4 linked regions of the Homo sapiens genome follow. The protein of the gene in region 3 interacts with the protein of the main gene of each other region in a pairwise test. Each region holds a gene or a part of one and is shown on either strand. Other genes may lie near its edges.

The links.
Region 1: the proteins of SGK1 (region 3) and MAL2 interact in binary tests that used the Homo sapiens proteins (3 or more experiments, as listed by UniProt).
Region 2: the proteins of SGK1 (region 3) and MAGEA1 interact in a two-hybrid assay, tested with the Homo sapiens proteins (one study listed by BioGRID and IntAct).
Region 4: the proteins of SGK1 (region 3) and NDRG4 interact in binary tests that used the Homo sapiens proteins (3 or more experiments, as listed by UniProt).

The regions. Positions count from the first base shown.
Region 1 is NC_000008.11:119,204,535-119,211,392, reverse strand, and holds the start of MAL2 (protein MAL2), read right to left. Parts: upstream 3,031-6,858; 5' UTR 2,921-3,030; coding exon 2,789-2,920; intron 1-2,788. UniProt on the Homo sapiens protein: Member of the machinery of polarized transport. Required for the indirect transcytotic route at the step of the egress of the transcytosing cargo from perinuclear endosomes in order for it to travel to the apical surface via a raft-dependent pathway.
Region 2 is NC_000023.11:153,175,246-153,182,283, reverse strand, and holds the start of MAGEA1 (melanoma-associated antigen 1), read right to left. Parts: upstream 3,001-7,038; 5' UTR 2,919-3,000; intron 108-2,918; 5' UTR 35-107; intron 1-34.
Region 3 is NC_000006.12:134,315,090-134,322,889, reverse strand, and holds the start of SGK1 (serine/threonine-protein kinase Sgk1), read left to right. Parts: upstream 1-4,777; 5' UTR 4,778-5,429; coding exon 5,430-5,498; intron 5,499-7,800. UniProt on the Homo sapiens protein: Serine/threonine-protein kinase which is involved in the regulation of a wide variety of ion channels, membrane transporters, cellular enzymes, transcription factors, neuronal excitability, cell growth, proliferation, survival, migration and apoptosis.
Region 4 is NC_000016.10:58,510,136-58,514,146, reverse strand, and holds the end of NDRG4 (protein NDRG4), read right to left. Parts: intron 3,503-4,011; coding exon 3,464-3,502; intron 2,726-3,463; coding exon 2,571-2,725; 3' UTR 528-2,570; downstream 1-527. UniProt on the Homo sapiens protein: Contributes to the maintenance of intracerebral BDNF levels within the normal range, which is necessary for the preservation of spatial learning and the resistance to neuronal cell death caused by ischemic stress.

The sequences.
Region 1 (6,858 bases), on a different chromosome or scaffold from region 3:
GGGACAGAAATGAAGAACTCTTAAAGACAAACGAATTTGAACAGAAGGTCAAAATTAAAATGGAGTTTGAGGATATCCAGAAACACCGGCAGAGGTTAAAATAATGGGTCCCCAGAATGGAGATCACTTAGCATTTAGGACAGTGCCTGGGAAATTCTCACATTTACTTTACAGGTTGAGGAATTTCTGAGGAGGAGCCATGGGAGATGGCCAATTTTAAAAGAATCAGAAAATTAGATGGAAATTGAGACATCTAGGAGCTAAGTTGCTTCAAAAGTGTTCACTTAGCTTCTATCTGTACATCCACTCAAGATGAGTATTCTAAATGGAGGGGTAACAAGCCAGCTTTGATCTCTGCTCTCTTAAAGCATGTAAACCAATATCTCTAAACAGTCCTAAAGGATGAGAGCCGAGGAGCTATAGTTTGACTCTAGTGTGGTCTCTTGTTTTGTTTCTCTAACGTCACCAGTTTCATTGGAACATTTTGGTCATTTTTCAATGGGGTGGGGGAGATTGATATTCAAGTAAAGGAGATAAAGGGGGCCTAAAATGTAAACTTATTGAGTTGGCCATAAAAAGAGAGAAGCAAACTAATAAGCTTTTGGAAGTGATGCTGTTCTACGTAGCCAAGAGTGTGAGACATGTTTCAGGATGTAAGAAGCCAGAGGAAATGAGATAAGAGGATTAGATTGGACACTTCTGTGAGTCTGGAATCCCTCCTAGGTTGGGGAGTGGTGGCAGTTTTAGCGGATAGAGAGAATTCACATCTCTGAAAGCAGAGCTGTCTTCTCTAGGCTCTGAATATTAGAATCACCAGGGAAGCTTTAAAAAATAACTAGTGAACTCTGGCACTCCCCCAGAGATTCTGATTTAATTAGTCTGGGCTGGTAACAGTTATTTTAAAAAGCTGTTCAAGTTATTAAGTACAGCAAGAATTGAGAACTAACCTCTGGGCTAGATTTAAAAAAGATATAATGGGGAGGGGGAGGGGGAAATTGACTAAGTCACTTTCTATTCTTTTCCCCCAGAATTAGGCCTTGTTTCCTAAAAGTCTGACATGACTACAGGTTCTTGAGATGGTATTTGATTAGAGGGCATATGGATAAGCCTTCTTTGCATATACACATGTATATATATTTACATATACACATACATGTATCTTTACATACATACATACATATATTTGAATAAACATTAGAAAAATATAACCAGAATATCAAATTTGAAATTTCATGTATATTATTGCTTAAGAAAAGACAAAAGTACTGAAGTTTAGAAAGTATTTCAATGAACTGTCTGTAAATTCTAGTACAGGTGGAATGCGGATATGGCAAAAACTTCTCAAAGAGGTAGGCAAAAAACTGGAGCTTGCAGAACATGGAATAAAGTAGCCGAGAACCTAAGAAATCGTTCTTTGCAGATCTTCCAGTTCTAAACGTGTCTCCCTCCCACAGCAAGGCAGCCAGCCCAATGCCATCGTCTCTCCGCTCTTCCCACATGGATGCCTGCACCTCATCCCAAGCACTCAGATGCTTCTGAACCAGGCTCAAACTCAAACCAGCCTCGCAGTCAGGATCCCATTACTGATGTCATAGCCTGCAACTCACTCACGTCTCCTCTTTCAGATTCAAATCCGGGCTAAACTTAACTTAGGGTGGTGTGGCTACCTGAGCATAATAGAACAGTGCTCACAAGGTGATCCAGCTCCACAAGCACAAAAGTGAAACCAAAGCGACCCAAATAAAGGTTATGCAAGCTCAAAGGCCAGGGTGAGGGGAGAGATGAAAATCCTAAACCGAGCAAACAATACCAGCCTGCCGGAAAGGCACTAACTCGCTAACATTTCACTTTTTATTTGCCATTCTCAGGCATGATGCAACCTCAGGTTGCCCAATTTATATTTGCACATTATCTACTTGTCCACAAGGAGCTTCGAAAGTTTCCAACTCCATAAAATTCCATTTAAAAAGTTCAAGTGCTACCTAAAAAGGCTGCACGACAGGCAGGTAACCCCACCTTTACTTGGGCCCAACAAAGTGTGCTAAAAAGGTTTGGAGTTGCGTAAGGAGGCCAGGAAGTGAGAAGGTGCAAAGGCAGGCAGAGAAGAACTCGAGAGCCACGTTTCCATCTTTCCCCCACCATTGTCACACCCACTGGATTAGAAACTGCCCAGGGCATGGCACATAACTCACCTTTCTCCTTGCCCTGCCTCCTGCCCAGCTCCTCTTTCCAATCCAAAGGCCACTAATGATGGCAAGGGTGAGTGGGGAAAAAGCATGTTCAAGTCCTCAGCCCTCTTCCTCTTCCTGTTGCCTCCCGCCCCCACTTTCCACAGCGTGGCAGCCACCAGGTCACCCAGTCATCGGCTACACCTTTGCACCACCCAACAAAATGGCAGGTTAGCAACAGGCGAGGCCGAGAGCCAGGAGCTCGCTCCGGCCAAGCGCGGCCCCTGGCCATGCCCTGGGTTTCTAAAGGCGCCTCTGAGCCCCAACACCTTTCTTTCCTCCACGTCCCCAATGTTCGGCCCTGCCGGGCCGCCTACTCGCCCTCCCCAGGCAATTTCCGTCGCCCGCGGGGGAGCAGGTGCCCGCGTAACAGGTGCTAGGAGGGAGGGCCCGGGCGGCGGCGCGGGGCACCGAGAGGACCCCGGGAGGGAGCGCAGGACAAAGCCACGTCGAAGGGAAGGAGGCCGGGGGCGGACGCAGAGGAAGACAGCCCGGGGGACAAGGATGCCGCCGCCTGTCCTCGCTCCCCGCGCGACCCTCGCTCCGGCGGCCCCACTTACAATCTCCAGGCAGACGAAGGCGCCCGAGTAGGTCCGCAGGATGTCGGGGCCGGCGGGCAGGGTGACCCGGGGCGGCGGGAAGGACACGGCGGGGTTCGGGGGCGGCGGGACTGACGCTCCGCCGGCCGACATGCTGCCGCTGCCGCTGCTGCGTCTCCGCGCGCCGCCGCCGCCTCCCGCCTCCGCCTCCCGGGCTCCTGCCGCCGCCGCCGCCGCCGCTCAGCTCCGCGGGCTCCGGGCGCGCCGCGCGGGAGGAGGCGTGGCCGTGGGGCTCCTCGAGCCCCGCCCCGTCACGTGGGCCCAGGTGAGCGCCGCTCCGCCCTGGCGCCCGAGCCGCTCGCGATCACGTGCACAGGTGCGGCTATTGCAGCCGCCAGGCGCGGTCCTCCCAGCTCCGCCGACCTCACCTCCTGCTCCGCTGGCCAGCGCCAGCGCTCCGCGGGCGTCTCCATGCGCACCCCCATACCCCTGATCGCTATTTTTACCTTCTAGCCCTCCCCTTAGTTTGCACCTGTGCTCTCCACCTGTCTTCTCCCCAGCTCTCACAGCGCGCCCTCGCCCACTGTGCTCAGTTTGACAGATACACAGGTCTTGGTGCTGTGACTCAGAAGGTAAAATCGAGGTCACCAGTCACACTTAAAAAGTGGGGTGCTTATGTTTTAAATGGGACTCGAGTGGGATTTTTTTAAACGCCACTAGGGCAGCGTCGCGCGTGGGAGTCGGATGAGTCAGCTGCAGCAGCCACTGGCGCGGGGTCCCTGCAGGTCACCGGAGGTGTCCTCGTCCGTGAAACGGGGATGTGAAATCCACCGGCATAGATGCTCACATTAGATCATATAACATGAAAAGAGTTGAGCGCACAGTAAGCTCCTTAAATGCTAGCTGATATGATGAGAGCTCTTTTCCTTACACAGGCGCCTATCACTGCTCAGTGGACACACGATGTTGCATGGGTTATATTTTTTTAAGTAGAACTTTTAATTATTGATTTCACTGGTATAAAACTAATTGCTTATTGCCTTTTAATGGCTTAAGGGGATTTTTTTTTTAAGTCTATGTATGGTTCGAATTTCCTGCTCTAGTTTATCCCCATTTATCTCCATTTTATCGTTGGTTTTAACGTCAACATTTTGTAAGTTCAACAGAGGAGATGAGCTTAATTTTCTCGTCTACTAAAGATGAGCAAATCTACCAAATCTACATGCATCAGCACACACAGGTAGACCACGTTGGAAAAAAACATTGGCTAATCTCATCAGACATTCTCCAAGTTGAATCCTGACCTTGCCTGTCAGGTTCAGTCTCTGAGGAACTGTATTTAGCACTATGCTCTGCTCAGCAGATTCTAGTTACTCTACTTCTCTATTATTTTAATAAGTGAAACTCATAGGTGTGGTTGTGGCATCCGGGTAAAAACCACAAAACAGGGTGTGGGTGAAACCTTCTGTATATCCCTCCTCTCCCCACCTCTTAGTCACCACTTTCTGATATTTAATGTGTGGTGTTTATTTAATAGGAAATTTTAAGTTTTCTGCATGGATTTGTTTGATCGATGAGCCCTGTCTGTATTCAGACTCTGGCACGGGATGATCTTTCTGTTTTATTTTCTGCCTAAGAATTCTCAGTAAGCACTTAAAAAATGTTCAAAGGAAAGACTTCAAAGAAGTAATCATGGAGATGATCAGCAACTACGCTATGCCCAAAATATTTTAGTGAGTGAATTTAATACGTCCTTGGAGTTTCTAGAAGGGCTAATGATTCAGAAGAGCCTCAAGTGAGCTTATTTTAGCATTGCCACCTAGGAGAACACTTTCAACTGGGTCTCTTACTGCACCCTCCTTGCTGTACTGCATATCCTCAGCCATCTTTGCTTTGCCTCTCCTTCCTGCTTCCACAGTGACCAGTGGCATGAAAAAGGTTGTCAATGAGCGCTCTGTTATTGTAACATATTATCTGCTTGAAAAAGAACACTTTTTTTTTTTTTCGAGACAGAGTCTTACTCTGTCTCCTAGGCTGAAGTGCAATAGTGTGGTCTTGGCTCACTGCAATCTCTGCCTCCTGGGATCAAGCAATTCTCCTGCCTCAGCCTCCTGAGTAGCTGGGAATACAGGCACCTGCCACCACACCGGGCTAATTTTAGTATTTTTAGTAGAGACAGGGTTTCACTATGTTGGCCAGGCTGGTCTCGAACTCCTGACCTGGTGATCCACCCACCTCAGCCTCCCAAAGTGCTGGGATTACAGGTGTGAGCCACTGTGCCTGGCTGAAAGAGAACTCTTTTCTAGAACACTTTTTTCTCTTATGATCGCTACCAACACCTGTTTGTTCTTGATAATACCAGTTTCCTTCTAGTGAAGGCAACACCTCTAAAATCAAAGGAAGAAAACGCACTTAGCTCCACTCCACCCCACTCCTCTGCCTCTTCCTCCAGGACACTAACCATGAGCTCTTAACAGTTTCAACTTTCTGCTCTTTTCCCAACCTGTTCCGGTGGTTCCTGACTTCCAGCATAACTTTAACCCTGCTCATAGACTTCCTTTGGACTCCATTTTTATGGAATGTCAACATTCATGTTGTTATATTTTTAATGATCTTGACTCAAAACGACTTGCTACAGTCAATAAATTCTCACCTTATTATTGGGAATTTTTATGCTTCCATTCTCTTGGACACTGACATTCTGATGACTGTCTCCTATTGGTTTCTCTCTTTCATCCCCAATTCTTTGGCCTCCAGCCTTACCATCCCTTGCATTCTCTCATTGGCCCCATTCTAGCTTTTCTAGCTTCCCCTTCCAGCCTGTGCTTATGGGAAGGCATTTTCGTGATGCTCGTATTGATCCCACATTTCTTCCCATCTTGTACTTGACTCTAAACTTACTCTCACCGTTCCTTATTCTTCAGCTAGAGTTCAACCCACAATCTACATCTGCCCTCTCTGAATCATTCATCACACTGCCCAGGGTTGCTGAAAGAAGGTCATAATGAAGACTCTTGGTTCCACTACTAATTCATGTGATCTAATCCCCTAAAAGGTCATTTTCCTTTTACCTCCCCCCGCCTCCCCCACTGCCACCCCCATGCCTGGCAATATTTCTCTCAGTTCTTATCCCATAGCTTCTTTTGTTTTACCTGTCCTTGTGCCTGTCACAAGTAGGCTTATGTTCAGCGAATGAAAACAAATCTAGACTGTTCCACCCTTCCATAGTTTCTTTTAGCTTACAAGAAGTTTTAGGACATCTAGCCAGTAATACTTGTTTCACACTGCCATCAATCCAGTTATCCAAGACAAACACCTGGGTGTTTCCCTTGGTACCTCCTTCTCATGACACATATTTAATCAGTCACCAGGTTCTGGCAGTTCTACCATTTTATTTTCTAGAATATATGCACTTTCCATTCCACTGTTCTGACTCACTATCCCTCTCACAGTGAATGCTCTTCTCAGAAGGAATATGCTTCTGACAGTGAATTTCCCTCTCTTATATTCTCTGCACTGCTATCTGAATGATCTCTCAACAGAAAATTTATCAGTCACCCCTCTACTTAAAACGCCTCCAATTCCTTACTTTTCTCAGGATCAATTACAGATGCCCTGGAGTGCATTCAAGGTATTTCTGGCAAGTGGCTTCTGATGAGCCCTCCCACCTCACCAGCCTTGTTGATCCACCTACATCTTCAATACCTCCTGCCTCCAACCTTTACACATTCTCCTCTCTTTTGCAGGATATCCTTTCTTCTTACCACTCCCATATCCTCAACCTATTTTCTGTATATTTTGGGTCACAGGGACAGATATTTCTGGCAGCCTTTCTCTGCCCATTCAAGATTATGTAGGGCCCCCTGTCACCCAGTGTGTTTCTATAACCTGCTGTGCATAATCCACACAGAGAACGTATATCATTGAATTGAAATTGTGTTTTTACTTGTCTCCTATTGCTTGCTAGTGTTGTGTAACAGGGTATTAAATCAAAAAGTTCAGTGGAGGCACCAGGAGATGGTAGATATCAGATACCAACATGAGCTGTGAATCAGACCACCAGAAGTTTTAAAGTGGCCCGACTGTGATCT
Region 2 (7,038 bases), on a different chromosome or scaffold from region 3:
TGAACCTTGGAGACTCTAACAAAGGCCTACTTACAGATCTTCTCCTTGGTGCTCCTCTGTGGCCTCCAGGGAATCCTGTCCTCTGGGTTGGCCTGTCCCCTGAAAACCTGAAGGAGGAAGTGAGAGGGTACTCAGGGTACAGCCGGCCAGCAGAGGTCGATTCTACAGGACTGACAGTAGGGAGGTGAGGCCAGACTCTGTGGAGTCCTATGTGTCCTGTGGCAGGTGGGGCCCTTGGTGTGCATTCAGGGCAAACATTCACTGCTGGCACACCCTGTGCATCCTCTGCTCTGTGACCTGAGGATACTGTCTCAGACCAAGGCCTCACTGCCTGGTTCCTGGAGCTCCAGGAAGAGGAATCCACGGGCCCTCAGGGTGCAGACCGCAAGCACAGCCCTGGCTTCTCAGTGCTACCAGGAGGGTGGGCTGGACTCTGTGACATCCCCACTCTCATGCAGTGGATGACCCCCTCTGTTCTCACGCAGGGCCCTTATATTTTTCCTGGCAGGGCCTGGATCCTGCCCTTTTGCTGGTCTGAGAAATCCAAATCAAGAGTTCACATCCATGATAAGGAATGGAAGGACAGGAGGGGACAAACATCTGGCCACACGTGCCTAGGTCCTTGGGGAAGGGCAGCAAGAGATATCAAAATTCATTGGAATTAATGTGTCCTGGGTGAGGTGCCCGCTTGGTCCTCACCTTGACTCCTGGCAGGGCCTGGGACGCTCCCTCTACTGACCTGAGCGCAGCCTTCTCAGACCAAGGCCTCCCCGTCCCTGACATCAATGATCCCAGGATAACGGAAGGACCTCGGCAGACGGCCCAGCCCATGCTCTCTGGGGTGACAGCAGGGGCAGGGCTGATTTCTGTGCAGTCTCCCTCAGTGTTCTGGTCCTGGGGTACCCTCAGTCCTCCCTCATGTTCCTCACCCGAACGCATGGCAGATCCTGGGACCGCTCTGTCTTTAGACCAGATGGGGGTCCCTACGTTGACCTGAGTCACCCTCTGAGAATGAGGTCCTCACCTGCCCCAGATCTGGAAACAGGAGTGAAAAGAAGCCACATCCTGGGTGAGGTGTCCAGGGCTGACCCCTTTGGTTCTGGGGTGAGGATTCCAATAGCCTTGTCTGTCTCACTCATCTTTATTCCTGCCAGCGCCTGTGCTTCCTCAACCCCCAATTCCCTGACATGAGTAGACATCCCCCCTTTACCCCAAGACCCCATCTCCCTGAGGGCCCCCCAACTTCCTGCCTGTGGTACAAGTGAGAATGGAACATACCGCCATCCCTGATCTGGTCCCCCTAGAGCTACTAAAAGGGGACAGCCAGACTGTGTGGAGTCCCTTCTTTCTGAGCCGGGGATATCCCCAGTCCTCATGAAGGGGGCACATCTTGGGCCATATGGATCCTGGAACTCCTCCCTCTGTTGACCTGAGGCCCCACTTCTCAGACCACAGCTCTGTCCTGTCACCTCAAAGATGCAGGAAATATGGGCCATATGTGGCCACCGTGCCCTGGACCTCTCAGGGCCGAGGTCCACACTGATCTGGATTCCAAGGTCCCCTGAGTCCTCCCTCCTCTTCCTCCGCGTAAGCCTTGCAGGCCTGGGTCCCACCCCCATGCTAATCTGAGTCCCCATCATTCTGATTCTTGAGGCCAGAAGTGGCAGCCTCAGTCTCAGACAGGGGTGCGGTGTCCTAGGGTGCTGGGTCCTCTGAGGCCTCCCTCATCTCGCAGTAGGGCCCTCCCTCTGCTCCCCTGAGGCCCTGTTCAAGCCCCTTCCCTCCATCAGCCCTGGATGGGGACGTCAAGATCCGAGTGCCTGGCCGCCATTCCCGTGGCTTCCGTGGGTTGACAGCAGGGATTCTGACAAGATGAGGTTGGGGGTAGGGGGTAGGTATGGGAATGTGAGTGGGGTGGCGGTGGAGATGAGGAGACAGGTGTGGGTGGGGAACCCTCAGTTCCCTCCCAGGGTCCTGACCCTAATGCCGGGCGGATGCCTGGACCTTGATGCCTGGGCCCTGCCCTCTCCTGACCAACCCTGCCCCGGTCACATAAGCTATGACTACAGATTGCCCTGTGGGTTAAGTGGCAGTGGGACGGGACGGGGGGTGGTCCAGCTGAGACATCTGTCCTGGCCGGGTGGTCCAGGGCTGGCAGCAGGGGTGGTACTGGATCATTTTGGGGCCATCTACCTGGGGTGTGTGCCTCCTCAGTCCTCCCTCAGCATCTCACCTTGCCTCCTCACAGAGCCTAAAACCACTCCCCTCAGTGGATCTCAAGCCGCCCCTCAGAACCATTAAATGAACCTGGCTTCTCTCAGATCTGTGAGGTTCAAGTCAGTGGTTTCACATCGGGCCATCCAGGGCTTCCCTGGGTTGAGAGCAGGGGCAAACCGGATTCTGCCAGAATGGGGGAGGCGATGGGAGTGGGGCACATGAGAGAGATGAGGGTGGGGTTGGGGGCAGTGAGGGTGAGGTGGCAGAAGGGTTGGGGCTGGTGCTGGGGCTGGAGGGTGGTGGTCAGGTGACGGAGTAGGAGTAGGGATGGGGGTGGAGGTGTAGCTGAGGAGATGGGGGTTGGGTGGGGAATGGGAATGCGAATGGGGTGGGAGTGGGGATTGGAGTGCAGTCTTGGGGGCCCACAGCCCTCCCTCTTGGGTGCTGATCTTGATGCCTGGCAGAGCCTGTGCCCTGCCCTCTCCTAACCAGTCCTGCCCTGGTCACAGCAACCTCTGATTCCAGAGCTTGGGGAGAAGAACCTGGTGTCTCTCAAGGCTTTTGGAGCAGGGGTCTGGGGGCAGCCCAGGCTGAGACGTCTTCCCGCGGGTGGGCCAGGGCTGGCAGCAAGGGCGGCGCTGGAATATTTGGGGCTCTCTATTTGGAGTGGCGGGGTCCTCAGTCCTCCCTCAGCCTCTCACCTTGCCTCCTCACAGAGCCTGGGTCAGGTTCCTTCGGCCGAACTCTACGCCGTCCCTCAGAATGGAAACCTCGCTTCTCTCTGCCCCACAATGCGCAAGTCAGTGGCGTCACATCCGGGCACCCGGATGTTTCCTGGCGGGAACCGGATCCTGCCTGGGTGGGGGTGGGAGTGGGCGTGGGGGTGGGGGTGGGGGTGAGGGTGGAATGGCTGGGCGGATGGGCATCAGGGTTGAGGGATGGGGTGGGGGATGTGGGGTGGGGGTTGGAATGACAATGAAGAGGGGGTTGGGTCACGGGAGTGAGCATTGGAGTGGGGGTTGGGTCACGGGAGTGGGGTCTTAGGGACCCTCAGCCCTCCTTGAGAATCCTGAGCATGATGTCTGGCAGAGCCTGGACGCTGCCCTCTCCTAAGCAGCCCTTCCCTGATCACACGAGCTCTGACTTCAGAGTCCCCAGTGGTTTAAGCAGCAAGGGGGCTGGGGGTGGCCCAGCCTGAGAAGTCCACCACCAGATGGTCCAGGACTGGCATGAAGGGATTATTTGGGGTCCTCTATCTGGGGTAAGTGGGTCCTCAGTCCTCCCTCAGCATGTCACCTTGCCTCCTTACAGAGCCTGGGCCCGCTTCCCTCCACCGATCTCAAGCCGCCCCTCAGACCGAAAACCTCGCTTCTCTCTAACCACTAATGCTCAAGTCAGTGGCGTCACATCTGGGCACCTGGGCTTCCCTGGGTTGAGAGCAGGGGTGGAACCGGATTCTGCCTGGCTTGGGCTGGGGGTGAGCGTGAAGATGTTTGGATGGGTGGCGTAAAGGGAGGGATTGGGGGTGGTAGGGGGAGGGATGCCAGTGGTGCCCCGGGGCTTAAGTCGTCGTGTTGGTGGTAGTGGGGTTGGGCGTGGGGTTGGGGGACCCTCGGTCACCCCTCAGGGTCCTGACTTTCATGCCTGGCAGAATCTGGACACCCATATTCTCTGCCGATTGTGTCTGCTTCTCTCCCACCAAGTCTCTGGCCCCCAGTCCCATGAGGTGGCAATGGGAGGGGGGGTGTGGTCGTGGTAACATTGCCAGGGTCTTCCAGGGCTGACAGGAGGGGCTGAGCTGCATTCTGTGGCCCATCTACGTCGGGAGAGTGGACCCTCTGTCCCCACTCAGGAAGGTCCTCCTCCCGGCTCCTGGCACTTTGTTGAAGTCATGGGCGGGAGATGCTGTTTCTGCCATCTCTGAGCATTTGCCCAGCTGCACCCATTGCAGAGAATGGCTGCAGGTCCCAGGCCAGGTGCTCCCTGCAGAGTGGCAGCTCCCGCGATTGTAGTGACCTCTGGGAGAAGACGCACACCTTCCCACGGGGGCTTCTCTCCAGCCAGAGCTACACTTGGCAAACCTTTTGTCCTCAAAGTAATATGTTTTACTCCCAGGCACGGTGGTTCACGCCTGTAATCCCAACAGTTTGAGAGGCCGAGGCGGGCAGATCACTTGAGGTCAGGGGTTCAAGACCAGCCTGGCCAACATGGTGAAACCCCGTCTCTACACAAAATACAAAAATTAGCTGGGTGTGGTAGTGCTCAGGAGGCTGAGGCGTGAGAATCGCTTGCACCTGGAGGCGGAGTTTGCAGTGAGGCGAGATCGTGCCATTGAACTCTAGCGTGGGCCTCGCGACAGAGTGACACTCTGTCTCAAAAAATTTAAAAAATGAAAAAGAAATACACTTTTCGTATCTTCCAAGGATATATGTAGGTAGCTGTATATATATATGTATTTATTTCTAGGAAAGAATACCTACCAGTAGTATGCATGATTCACTCTTATATCCTATTCTACTTCTTTTCCATTCTTTACGTTCTGTTGAAATAATTTTTTTTGAAACACAATTTCTCACCCACTATGTTGGTGTCTGGTTGTTATTAGTGGAACTCTTGATCCATACTGTCTTAACCAGCCCTGTTTAACTGGTGTCCTGCTGTTGCCCTAGGGCTACTAGCATCATGTTTTGAGGAGCTGCCTCAGACTGTGTAATGATGTGAAGTGGAAATTTGAAAACTTTCATTGTAACCATTTTGTCAACTGCAGTCTAGGCAGGGTACAGACCTCCCCAGTATCCCTGCTGCCACCCCCCCTCCAACCGAGACTGCAAGTGTCAAACACAATTACCAGTTCAACCATCTTCAGCATCACCCAGGGCTTTCTCTATTTTGTTGCTTAGACTTTGTTGCTGATATTGTGTCTTTCTCCTTCTTTTTCCCTTCTATAATTTTCCAGGGTTGATTTGTGAAGCAGAGAACAGCAGCCCAAATTTGATTGTCACGTTGGCAGCCACAGGTAAGACATAATTTGTACATAATTGTACATAATTGAAGCACATTTGACATTTTTACAGTGTTCTCTTTCTCATCAATGAATATGCTATGCTCCTCTATAATATGTGTGTGTGAGTGTGTGTATATATATATATATATATATAGAGAGAGAGAGAGAGAGAGAGAAAGATGGCATCTCCCTCTGTCTACCAGGCTGGAGTGCAGTGGCACTATCTCGGCTCACTGTAATCTCCACCTCCCAAGTTCAAGTGATTCTCCTACCTTAGCCTACTGAGTAGCTGGGATTACAGGTGCATGGCACCATACCCAGCTAATTTTTGTATTTTTAGTAGAGATGGGGTTTCAACATATTGGCCAGGTGTGTCTGGAACTCCTGACCTCAGGTGATCTGCCCGCCTCAGCCTCCCAAAATACTGGGATTACAGGCATGAGCCATCGCACCCAGCCTCATGTATTAATTTCAAACTCCTTTTACTTGAATCTGTCAGTATACTGTGATTGTTGCCTCTATAAAGACCTTCTGCATTTTTACTAGGCTTCTTTTCAGGTAATTCTTGGATTTTGATGCTATTGAAAAAGGCATATTGTATATTAAGTGTTCTAGTTACTGATTGCTTTCATCTGGCAAAGATTTTGATTTTGCTATTATAATCTGTTGTATACCTCATTCTGAAGGCCCATTCACTTGAATCTTCCACATGCCTACTCCTTTGAATTTTCAAGACTGATCATGTTATCACTAAACATTATATATTTTTTCCACTATTCATACTCCTTATTTATGTTGATATTTATAGCTCTGACTTTGTGTCTCAATACTGATTTAAAAGCTGGAGATAATACCTTACATCTAATTATTTTTCCTCTCTTTAATAATAAGTCCTCGAACATTTAGCATTTATGTATGTTTGCTGTTGATTTTAGTAAATGGAAATTCTCTTTCAAAAGAAGTTAACTAAATATGTTTACTTTGAACTCATATTGAATTTCCTTCAAAAGCTTTTCCTATACCCAGTGATATGAGCACTTATCTTTTTCTTCTCCATTTTGTATGTAAGGAATTACAATGAAATACGTTTCTTTTTTGTAACAATAAATCATATTTTCTTTCCTTGGGCAGAGCCTGTTTGTTCATTTAATATGCTACTAACTTATGTAGGATATGTGGTGTTATGTATGAGAGCTTCCTTGATGTGTTTTTGTCCATGGGTGGGGGTGGTCCTCATCTGGTTTTTGTATCCAAGAGGGCAAGTCTGGGAGAAGGAATTGAACGATAGTCTATATTTTGTATGCCTTGGAAGAGTTGAGGTAAGATGGTAGTTAGTTTTTCCTGATCATTTTGTTCAATCGGCCTCCAAGACTGCCTAGACTGGAACATTTGAGGGTGGCTTGAGCTATGAATATTGTACCATTTCTGTTTGTATAGTTTAAGTTTTCTTTTCCTTTTTGGACCAATTTGGAAATGTATTTATTTTATTTCTGCAAAGTGTTCAGTTTCACATAGGATTTCACTTTAAACGGTGTGAAATTTGCGATAAAAACTTTTTCTTAGGGAGCGCCTCAAAAACCTTGAATAATAGAATAACATAATGAAACCAGAACACCTGTCACTCAGCATCAACAACCTTCAATACATGTCATATCTGGTTCCAGTTTGAGGCTCACCTACTTGTATCTCAGCTGCTGGAATAATGTGGAGCAAATCTAAGACATCATTCCATTTCATCTCTAAATACTTCAATATGTTTTTCTAAAAGTTAAGAACTTTATGTTAACTAAAATCCCAATACAGTTTTCATTTCTAAA
Region 3 (7,800 bases):
AATTTGGTAAAACCAAAAAATTTCAAATTTTTTTAAAAAGGGACTTTTGGCCAGGCTTGGTGGCTCACACCTATAATCCCGGAACTTTAGGAGGCCAAGGCGGGCAGATCGCTTGAGCTCAGGAGTTTGAGACCAGCCTGGGCAACATGGTGGAACCCCATCTCTACAAAAACTACAAAAGTTAGCTGGGCATGGTGACACGCACCTGTAATCTCAGCTACTCGGGAGGCAGAGGTGGAATGATCGCTTGAGCCCAGGAGGTTGAGGCTGCAGTGAGTCATGATCACACCACTGCATTCCAGCCTGGGTGACAGAGAGAGACCCTTTCTCAAAAAAGCAAATAAAATAAAATTAAAAAGGGTCTTTTGCATGTACAAAAACAAACCCATAATCCCCAGCAGGGTTTCCTAATTCTTCATTAAATACATCACTACCACTGTGGCTGGAGTTTTAAGCATATGATCGAGTCACTCAGGCCAAAAAGGAATGTAAAACATTTCTCATGAGGTGATGTATTTTTATCCCTTTCTCCTTAGGGACATTTGTCACTAAACAGATACTTTATTGTTTGTTATCTTTTGTGTATTCTGGGGTGCTATCGAAAAAAATTACATTCCATTCAACAACTAAATGTATCACACAAAAACACTTTAATCTATGGGAAGATAGACTTTCTAAAAAGTATTACAGTGGCATATGCCTCTTGCTTTAGTGAAACAAAGAAATGTAGAGTTATTTATTACTTTGCAAAACCCTTTCAAATATAATTTGGTACTGACAATTCCTTTAGGAGGTAGGTGAAGAAGCATTTTATTATTATTATTTTACAGATGAAGAAACTGAGGCTTAGTGCGTTGAGGGAACTTGTTGAAGGTTGCACAATTAGGGAATGGAAGTGAGGTAGAAGATGTTCCAAATCAATACAGCAGTCTTTCCACCGCAGGTACATATTGGTAGTTAGTCCTACCTAGCTACTTTATTTTATTCTTTGTGTGACAGCCTAAACAATATTGTTGGGAGGAAAAGTAGGTATACCACAAAAAAATCAAATAGAGGTTCAAGGGATTCTTTTTGTTTGTTTGTTTATTTATTTATTTATTTTGAGAGAGTCTTGCTCTGTTGCCCAGGCTAAAGTGCAGTGGAACAACCATGTCTCACTGCAGCCTCAACTTCCCAGGGTCAAGCAATCCTTCCACCTAAGCCTCCTAAACAGCTGGACCACAGGCATGCATCACCACACCACCTATTTTTTTTCCTTTTTGTAGAAATGGGGCTTTGCTATGTTGCCAGGCTGGTCTCAAACTCCTGGGCTCAAGTTATCCTCCTACCTCGGCCTCCCAAATTGTTGGCATTATAGGCATGAGCCACTGTGCCTGGCCCAAGGGATTATTTTTAACATTGGGATTTTCCATCAAAAAGAAGTGTCATCCCAGGGCTACAGTGTCATTGAGGCTTAAAGAGGAAATGGTGAGGAGTGAGGTCGTTTGCTCTTACTGGAGCTCAGCATATTGGCTATCATGGGAGAGAGCTTAATGACTGAAGAATCTTAAAGGTATTTAATGATTCCTGCAAATGGTCTGGTGCCAGGGTCACTGATGTCAGCTATACTTACTTTTGTATTTAATTCGTTTGAAAACCATTTGTTGAGTGCTAGCATGGCCCAGGCACTCCGCTGTGTGCTGGTGCTACAAAAATAAATAAGTGTGTTTTATGGGAACAAGAAGTGAGTTAATTAATTAAATTAAGTTTGATTTATAAACAAGATGTTGCATGAGTCCAGAGTTTTTTTTTTTATTATTATAAGCAGGAGCCTGTGCTCCTTTATAGGTATCAACAGTGGACCTGTCAAAGGAAACATTTAGTAAACAGTAGTCACTCTGGGCTTACCTGAGGGCAGCTTTACTTATGAAAATAGAGGTCAGAGTGAGATGAAAGATGCCTTCTTTTCCTGAATAACCAACACAGTGCAGTTAATGCATTTCTCTATTATTGCACCAATCAAAAGATAATCCAAAATAATTGGCTGTCAGATATAGTCAGAATCCCTGCCCTATACTTCTCTTCCTTCATCTGACTGACCTACTCATTCTTTAAGGCCATGCACTAACATCATCCCTTTAGGTAAATTTCCTGGACCTCTCTTACCCATCCAGCCCCACCCTTCCCCCCTCCAAATTAAGGCAGGGTTGATGCATACACACCACACACACACACACACACACACACACACACACACACACAGAGTAGTACACTCTTATCCATGGGGGATACATTCCAAGACCCCCCCCATGGATGCGTGAAACTTCAGATAGTACCAAACTCCATATACATTATGTTTTTTCCTGTACATACATACCTATAATAAAGTTTAATTTATAAATCAAGCACAGTAAGAGATTAACAACAATAGTAGAATAATTTTAACAATGTACGATAATAAAAATGATGTGACTGTGGTCTCTCTCTGTGTCTCTAAAAGTATCGTATTGTACTCACTGATTTTCAGACCATTGTTGACCTTAGGTAACTGAAACTGTGGAAGGTAAAACCTCAGATAAGGGAGGACTACTGTATATAGTATTCTTACCACACTGTATATTTCTCTACTAGGCTGTGAGTTCCTTGGTGACAAAAACCAGTGACACTTACATGCACTGGACCTTCCATAGGATCTAGCATAGACCAAGTGACAGTGGCAGCATCTTCAAGAGGTGGCATGGAGTGAGGGAAAAGATAGCATTTAGCTTGTCTTCTCCTCCCTCATAATCTCTATTAACCACCCGCCTGCACCCCAAATGAACATACATCCTACATGAAACCAGGGTATTAGTCCGTTCTCACACTGCTAATAAAGACATAGTGAGATGGGTAATTTATACAGGAAAGAGGTTTAATTGACTCACAGTTCAGCATGGCTGGGGAGGCCTCAGGAAACTTACAATCAGAGCAGAAGGGGAAGCAAACACATTCTTCTTCACATGGCATCAGGAAGGGGAAGTGCTGAGCAAAAGGGAGAAAAGCCCCTTATAAAACCATCAGATCTCATGAGAAATCACTCACTGTGGGAACTACAATTCAAGACGAGATTTGGGTGGGGACACAGCCAAATGATATCAACCAGTATGCATGCTAGGCCAATGTGGGATTAAGCAAAGCCCCAGCACCTCCTTCCTAGCAGAGTGCTTAAAGGTCCCCTCCTGTATATTACTCAAATTCAATAAATGTCTGTTAAAACACTTTTGGGGGAGTGGCAATGGGACGAAAAAGAAAGAACTTGAATGACCATCATTTTTTAAAATGAGGTCCATTGAGGTATAATTTACATGCAGCAAAAGTTTCCCTTTTCCTATATAAAATTTGATGAGTTCTGACAAATGCATAGTTATGTAACCACCACCATCATCATGATAGAGAACACTTCCATCGTCTCAAAATAATTCCCTTTGAACTACCATAATTTTAAATGAACTCTTTAGAAGAACCACAAAAACTTATCAATGTTGTAGATTACATAACATATACTTGCATCTTGGACAACTTAACATATCTCTCCAAAATGAATAGTTGTTTTCCCTTGGTTATCATGCCATCATTTAGTTGTATTGCATTTTCTTTTTGGAAACCTCAAGGCATTTAGCAAACAGGATTTCATGTTTATTCCCAAAAACTCTGGCCCAACTGTAGAGATTTATAGTCCAATTCAATGAAACCCATGCATTTCTTTCCCAGTTTAACCTGATGTTTCTCTTCTTACCAGAGACTTCCATGTAAATACTTTAACAATGTTAGGTGTGTTATATATAATGAGGTCATAATCAGTTTCAAATTAGCATTGCGCCTTTCACTTATTTATCAATTATATTCCCTTGTGATGATTATGAAAAGGCTCCACATCCTGAGGACACTTGTCAGAGTTAGATTTATTAATGGAATGAAATAGCAAATAATGAATGACTAAATAAATGAATGAGTGAATGAATGAATGAGTGGCTGCCTCCATTTTATGGATGAGGCAGTGTCCGAAAGGCACAGTGAGGTCAGGTGATGGCAGAAAGCCACACACCGATGTTGGTGGCTTTCTGCCAGGTCAGATGCCAAGTTTATTTTCTTTGCTTTCTTGCTTTACTATCAACTAATCTTTAAAATCATTCCCATAAAATATCAACATTAAAGAATAAAAATGGAAAAATAAGCCACATACAATTAAATGGCTTTTTTAAAAGGAGCTCAGTGTGCAAAGGATAACATGAGTAAGGATTTTTTGGGAAATTTTTCACCTAATAGGAAGAATGCTTTACTCTTTTATTTATCAAACCTTCCTCATCATTAAATGGATTCAGTAGTACTTTTTGGTAATAACTCGTGTGTGTGTGTATGTGTGTAATAAAGTACTTTGTATATGTTCATTGTGTTCTTTTTTTAATAAGCTGTTTTAATGAAAAAGACACAATTACCGTCACCATTGCCCACTATATAATGACAAGTAGGGGAGGGGAGGCTAAAAGAGCTTCTACATAGTGAGAGATCTTCCATTGTTATACCTACGCTTGCACTTTATTTCATTTTCTTCCACGTTTGGACAGGTCGAGATTAAATGTGATTACATTTCCGTTGAGAGGCTTTTATTCAGCAACAGGATTCAAAAGAATGTCAATGAGCATAAAATAAAAACGGTGTGCAATTTATATGAAACTCTGATTTAAATGGTCCTAACCAAAAAAAAAAAAAAAGAAAGAAAGAAAAGAAGCTATTTAAAGTAACCCTCCCAAGGGGAGTCAACTGCTCTTCAGTGTGCCCTGAGCCGGCTGTGCCTTCTCTCCATCCGCTGCTCAGATATTCATGAACCGTTGCTTCTTCCAGCCTCGCCTTCTCGCTCCCTCTGCCTTTCTGGCGCTGTTCTCCCTCCCTCCCTCTGGCTTCTGCTCTTTCTTACTCCTTCTCTCAGCTGCTTAACTACAGCTCCCACTGGAACTTGCACAATCAAAAACAACTCTCCTCTCTCAAGCCGCCTCCAGGAGCGCATCACCTGGAGAAGAGCGACTCGCTCCCCGCGCCGGCCGCGGAAGAGCAGCCAGGTAGCTGGGGGCGGGGAGGCGTACCCTTCTCCCGCTCGGTAAGAGCCACAGCATCTCCCCGGAGATTGGCCGTATCCCACCGTCCGGCCCCCAGGGTCCTGCAGCGGTGATGCATATGTTTCGGAGCAATGATGGAAGGAGAAAAGCCGCTGTCGGTGGCAACTGAAAGTGGGGAGAGGTTGCTGCAGTAGCTGGTGCTGCAGAATGCGCGAGTGAAGAACTGAGCCCCGCTAGATTCTCCATCCCGCTCAGTCTTCATTAACTGTCTGCAGGAGGTAAACCGGGGAAACAGATATGCACTAACCAGGCGGGTGCCAACCTGGATCTATAACTGTGAATTCCCCACGGTGGAAAATGGTAAACAAAGACATGAATGGATTCCCAGTCAAGAAATGCTCAGCCTTCCAATTTTTTAAGAAGCGGGTAAGGACAGGTTTTGCTTATTTCTTTTGTTTTCTGTGCTTCTCTTAAATGCTTTTGAATGTTTGCCTGAAGTAAGCCTGAGGTTTTGTTGCTAAACCCTTAATGTAAGCCGTGCTTCTGATGGCAGTGGTAAAGCTGAGAACTATACCTGACTTGATTAGAATTTGTTGGAGGAGGGGCAGGGGGCTATGAAGAGTTGCATTGGGAGGAGGGGGTTGGGCTGAGATGCCTTAAACGGGTTTGAGCTGGGAATGGGGATTTTTCTCTCTCAAGCCACAACAAAGATTACAAGGCAGTCGCAAAGAGAACTGGCTTGAGTACAATTATGGCTAGTAATTTAGTCAGGGGCTAATTTAGCAGCTTCCTCTCATCTTTGAAGGGTTCAACTTTTCTACACCTTTCATCCACTCAGTCTCAAGTGATGCATTATCATCTTCGTTCGTCAGAAGCAGCAGCTTCTGGTTTCCCAAATCCATTCAGCCAATAATTTGCTGTGTCTCTATCTGTGGTATAAATAGCAAAGGAGTAGAATGACCTTTTACAGAAATGATGGAATCCAGCATTTAAAATTGTCTATTTTAAGTTGCCTCAATTTTTGCTTTTGCTTAGAATAACTGCCTTTTTTTTTTTTTTTTTTTTTTTTTTTTTGGGAGAGAGCAGTGGGAGGTCTGTATTTGAGTGATAATTCAGGGTTATGTTGCTGTATGCATTTATTTCTTAAACTCCTTATTCTTCAACTCAAAGTATGAATAATGTTGCATTGGTTGTAGGTGAGAAAAAAGGATTTTTTTGCATGTATATTTCACAATAAACTCAGTTCACTGGGATGGCCACACTGGTGGTCTGTGTAAATCTGCAAATTTATACACAAGCGGGAGGTAAGAAATGAATGATTGTTAAAGGAATGACACTGACACTCTTAAGGACAGTGTTTCCTAAGCAACGTAAGAGAAGGAACATCCTCCAGTCCCCAGTTGCCCCATCCTATTTAATACCCTAGGGCAATTCCACCAAAATGGTTCTCTCCATTCATTCCTCCTTCCTTTCATTCAGGTCCTTTCTGTGCCACTCCTGAAACACAGCCCTTCAGTTAACTCATCCGCAGAACACAGTGAATTTCAGGGTGGGCTGGACTATCTCCCTGCACCAAATGGGCAAGCTGGGAAGGCAAGGCTAGAAATGCAGGCAACATGTCAGGCCCAGCTAGAGGGCCAGCGAAGGCTCCCAAGCACCCTTGACTGAGTTCTCATCAGTAAAGCAAAATCTTTCTCCAAGTCTGTGGGCCAAAGCATATGCATTCAAACCAAAATGAAACCAACCTGTCCTGGCCCCTGCTCTTGGAGTGGGAGTACCATGTGAAATCTCACTAGTGAGCTGCAAGCTAAGTGAAAGCAAGTCAGTGCAACTTCACAGAGCTCCACAAGGCTTCTTAGTTTTTCTCTGTAGCTAAAATATTTCTTTCCAAGGGAAGAGCCCTTTATGAAAATTAATTTTCTTTCTTTCTTTTTCTTTTTTTTAGAGACGGGGTCTTGCTATATTGCCCAGGGTGGTCTTGACCTTTTGGGCTCAAGTGGTCCTCCTGCCTCAGCCTCCCAAATTGCTGGGATTACAGATGTCCACCACCAGGCCCAGCCCTAATTTTCAATAATAAACAAATGTTTTGCTAATTTTAAAAATGCCATAGCCCATTATCCAGTATTTAAACTCTATTGCCTTTTAATTACTGTATTTATTTCATGGTATTGGGGATATTCTAAAACTCCTCAGTCAGATGTTCTTAAGCAATGTAGATTTAAGTTACATAAATTTTAAATTGTCTTTTATTTTCTTTGTTATCAAAATGTACTAATAGAAATACTAATTTGCCATTTGGTTTTGTTTTGCTTAAAAGCAAGTTTACCAATAGACTTCAGTTGGTGACTCTGCAGACCTTGAATTTTGCAGAGAACCACCCAGGGTACTGATGTCTTATCTGAGTACATGCAGAAAGAAGTTTCTACCAAGATAACTGGCAGGCAGCTTCATCTAACTTCTAACCTGGGTCTATCAGTTGCTGGAGACAGGATCAGACATCTCTCCTGCCCCTGCGCTCTCCTTACTCCTCAAGGACAGTTAACTAAGTAGAAGGTGACCTTGTATCAAGTCATTGAATGCCCCAGGGATAAATTCTTTGATTTTTGTCTACTTTGGTTTATTCCACAAATTCTGTATTCTAAATGTTTATTTCTGCTTGTACATGACTTTGCTTTTTTTGTTTGTTTGTTTTTAGTTAAACAATATGTAAATACATCTATAAAACATT
Region 4 (4,011 bases), on a different chromosome or scaffold from region 3:
TAGATTGCAGAGTATAATCATTAACCCTGTCAGACATGATCGTATGTTTAGGAGAAGGCAAAGAGTAGGTCATTTATCTTTGAAGGAATGTAGTGACTCAGGCAAGAGATTTGGAGGGCAGGGGTGTTTTGTTTTGTCTTTAAGGCATTTTTTTCTGGAGAGCTGTATTTTGTTTTTTTGTTTTATTTTGAGGCAGAGTCTTGCTCTGTCATCCAGGCTGGAGTGCAGTGGCACGATCTCCACTCACTACCACCTCTGCCTCCTAGGTTCAAGCGATTCTCCTGCCTCAGCCTCCCGAGTAGCTGGTATTACAGGCACGCGCCACCATGCTCAGCTAATTTTTGTATTTTTAGTAGAGACGGGGTTTCACCATGTTGCCCAGGCTGGTCTCGAACTGCTGGCCTCAAGTGATCTGCCCGCCTCAGCCTCCCAAAGTGCTGAGATTACAGGCTTGAGCCACCGTGCCTGGCTGAGGAGAGCTGTATTTTGTCACAGAGTCAGGGGAGAAATGAGCACATAAGCAGAAATGAGCACATAAGGCTTTTAATGTTTGTGACATTCTCATCTCACCGGTAAAATAATGTGACGTGTACTGGAAATAGAAAGATGGGTGGAGACCATCCTCTCCTAGCACCCTCAACCCAAAACCCAAGCAGCACCAGCAGCCCCTGCCCAAACATTCTGTTTCTCCAAAAGCCTCCCATGATGGGCATGGCATCACCACACTGGAATTCTTCTTAGGTTCTTTATTAGTTTTTCAGCACAGTTAACTCTTTCTACGTTGACTAGAGTTTTGTTTTACATTTTATCATCTCATGACAGCAGCCACCAGAATACACAAAATTAGGCTCTTTACTTTGTGCGGAGAAGAAAATAATAAACATTAAAAGTTCACCTTGACCAAAGAGACAACCTCCAGAAGAACACCACACATGGGAGGACCCGATGTACACACACACACACACACACACACACACATATAATGTATAGATATTTATAGATACATCTGGAAACAGCAAAAAACAAAATTCCAAGATTTGCAGTGTTATCTACAGTAAGAGGGATGAATTCTACCAGCTTTCAAACAGTCACATTCAGTATTCAGAAGAAGCACATGAGGGGGTAGAACTGGGCAGAAACTAACACGCCACCAGGCTAGTCATGGCTTAAGATTATAGAAGGGGGGTGATGTGTGTAGAGGAAATACGCATATAGGTGTCCTCTCAGCCTCAGAACACCCGCCACAACCCTTCCCCCGTCCACAGCCCTGCATGTTTTCACTGCTCTCTCCCGTTTTGGGGTTTGTGATTATTGATTTAGGGTCTGAGACAAATGGCTCTGGTTTCTGGGCCGCAAGATGCTATGGGGTAAGGTGAGTGGATGGAAAGCATACAACGCAGTCCTGGGCTTCAGGGGACAGCAGGAGGCTGGGGTGTAGGGGAAGCCTTTCTCTTCTACCTGACCCTTGTTCATGTCCAGAACCTTCAGCCCCCAGTAAGCCCCAGCCCAGGCGGCTATGGGGTGTGGGACTGTAGAAGCCTCGCTGCCTTGGGCCAGTTGACTAAATAAACTCTCTCTTCCTTAGTGATGCGTCCGGGACACACTGGCACAGCCTGGCCAGAGCTCTGCCTGAAACACCACACTGCTACTGATGGCGTTGCCCTCTGGGGAACCTGGGGGCAAAAAAGGGGTCTCCAGGAACTCAGCTACCCCTGCCTCTGGCCACCTGCGGGCTCCCAAAGGCAGTCACCACGAAGTTCTCAGGGGCACACACACCACACATGGGCTCTCTCCTCCTTCTCCCTCACCCCCAGTCAGGTCACTGTGGGGACAGAGGACCAGGCAACTTCTGCCTCGGGGAGGCCTTGGCTCAGAATTGGGACAGGGCCAGGAGGTGGCAGAGTGTGGGCTGGAAGGGACAGTCTGTGGGGTTCCTGCCCTGACGGTTCTCCATGTTCTGTCTTCCTTGGGCAGAGAAACCCCTTGACGCCCCTGCCTGCGTGGCCCTACAGCACCAGCTGGGCCCAGAGAGCACCAGGAAAGTGGCTGCCTGGTCCGAGCGCCCCCTTGTGGCTGTTGTCCAGATGATTGTCACATGTGCTATGAGACAGAAACAGGTGTGCTTGGTGGAGGGTGGGGGAAGGGGTCTCCCAGGGCTCCCACGCCAGTGCCTGAGCTGGCCCCGCACCCCTGTGGCCCAGCACCCACCCTCTCGAAGCCTCTCTCATCTCCAAACATGCCTGCCCAAGGGCTCACCCAGGAATGGCCTGGATCCGTAGCGAATCTCCCTCCCTATGGCCCTGCCCTTCTGTGCCTGGGCCGCCGGGAGTGGGATGAGAGGGGTCAAGTTGGCTAAGTTACCACGGAGAGTGAGATGGGATGAGGAGGACTGAGCCCCTTAAAACACCTGGAGACTGTTCTGCTGCAGCATCTAAGATCCCCTCATTTTTTTCAAACAGAACCCCATTTCCTCCCCTTTGCCCTCACAAAAATAAACTAAAGGGAACATGAGCCGGCGCAAGGATGGCGGTGGGGCCTCGACGTGGGCGTCGTCAGCGGGATCAAGGGCTTCAACAGGACACCTCCATGGTGTGGTTGACCTGGCCCAGCCCCTCGCTGCTCTCTGAGTGGGTGCAGGCCTGTGGGCGGCTGCCATCCACCGAGCTGGCACTGGTGAGGGATGCAGTGCGGGAGCGTGCCAGGCGGGTCATGCTGGCTGAGGGCACTGTGGACAGAGACAGGATGGGCCTGAGGACTGGCGGGCAGGGCCAGGTGCCTCTGGTGGGAAAAGTAGGCTGCAAGCAAAGCGGCCAGCGAACCGTTCCTCGAAGGCACAAAGGGCTCCTCCTGAGTCAGGAGGCTGGCGACAGCTGTCGGGCTGGGGGCATGCAGGGCCGGCGACAGTGAGTGGGCCTAGGGGGCTGCGGCCAGCAGCTGACCAGGCAGCCCTGAGCTGGTGCAGGGAGGTGCTGGGTTTCCAGCCGTGCCTCCCTCAAGAGGATGCCAGTGGAGAAGTAGGACTGTTTCTGTAAAGGAGGACGCGGAGCGGTGGTCGCATACTGCCCTCAATTCAGACTGTGCCCTAATTCCCTAATTCAGAGTTTCACAAGCAAGACTTGCGGGCAGCAAACTCTACCCTCCGGAACTCTCCTGGCCACCTATGTGGCTCAGGCAGGGCCAGGCCTGGGCTCTACCTCTAAGGAGGGTCTGTTTCCTATCCCCAGAGCTCTGGAAGCCACGCAGCTCATGACAACCTAGAAGCAAGACTGCTCTGCAACCCAGCCAACCTAGAGGCCAAGCCTGCAGAAAAGCAAGAATCTGTGGGGTTTCTGAGTTGAACAGGACACAAGAAGGTTCCAAACCACAGCAAGATGCGGCCTGGCTGCAGCACACTGCGCAGAGGAAGGAGCGGGGGAGGAGGAGGCTGGGCGTCCATGCATCAGGGGAAGGGCCGTGGGGCTACCTGCTCCTCCACTCAGCCTTCGGTCCTTCAAGTACGCAACTAAGAGAGAAGACAGAGCCGGAGAGGGGGCGGGGATGGGGGAGACACAACACAGTGAAGAGCGTGGTCCGCTGAGTCAAGGGCATTGAGATGAGCCAGAGAGATGGGACAAAGGACAGGCACAGAGAGGCTGGGGGCAGGGCCAGAGGCTTCTGGAAGCCCACTCCTGCCTGCCCACCCAGCAGTGGCCCCCAGAAGGATCTCTGGCCCAAGGAAGCCCTGACAGGTGGGGTGCTTATCCCCTCACCATTCTCCTAGGCCTCAGTCTCCTGCATACAGAATGGGGGAGGCCTGCCCGCTCTGTGCCCTTCCCAGCTTGGGGCTGCCTGGTGGAGTTTCTCCCCAGGACCCTGAGAACGCGTCTCAGCGCCTGACAATGTTCTTCCGTTCACCTCGCAAATGCTTGCTGTGCCCTGATTCCAGACTCTGTGCTCCTGCGGAGCCTCCCTGTGGGCCCTAGGGCTCTGCCCTGCTCCAGAGAGCATTCTATTCCTGGGTGTCCTCCCCAG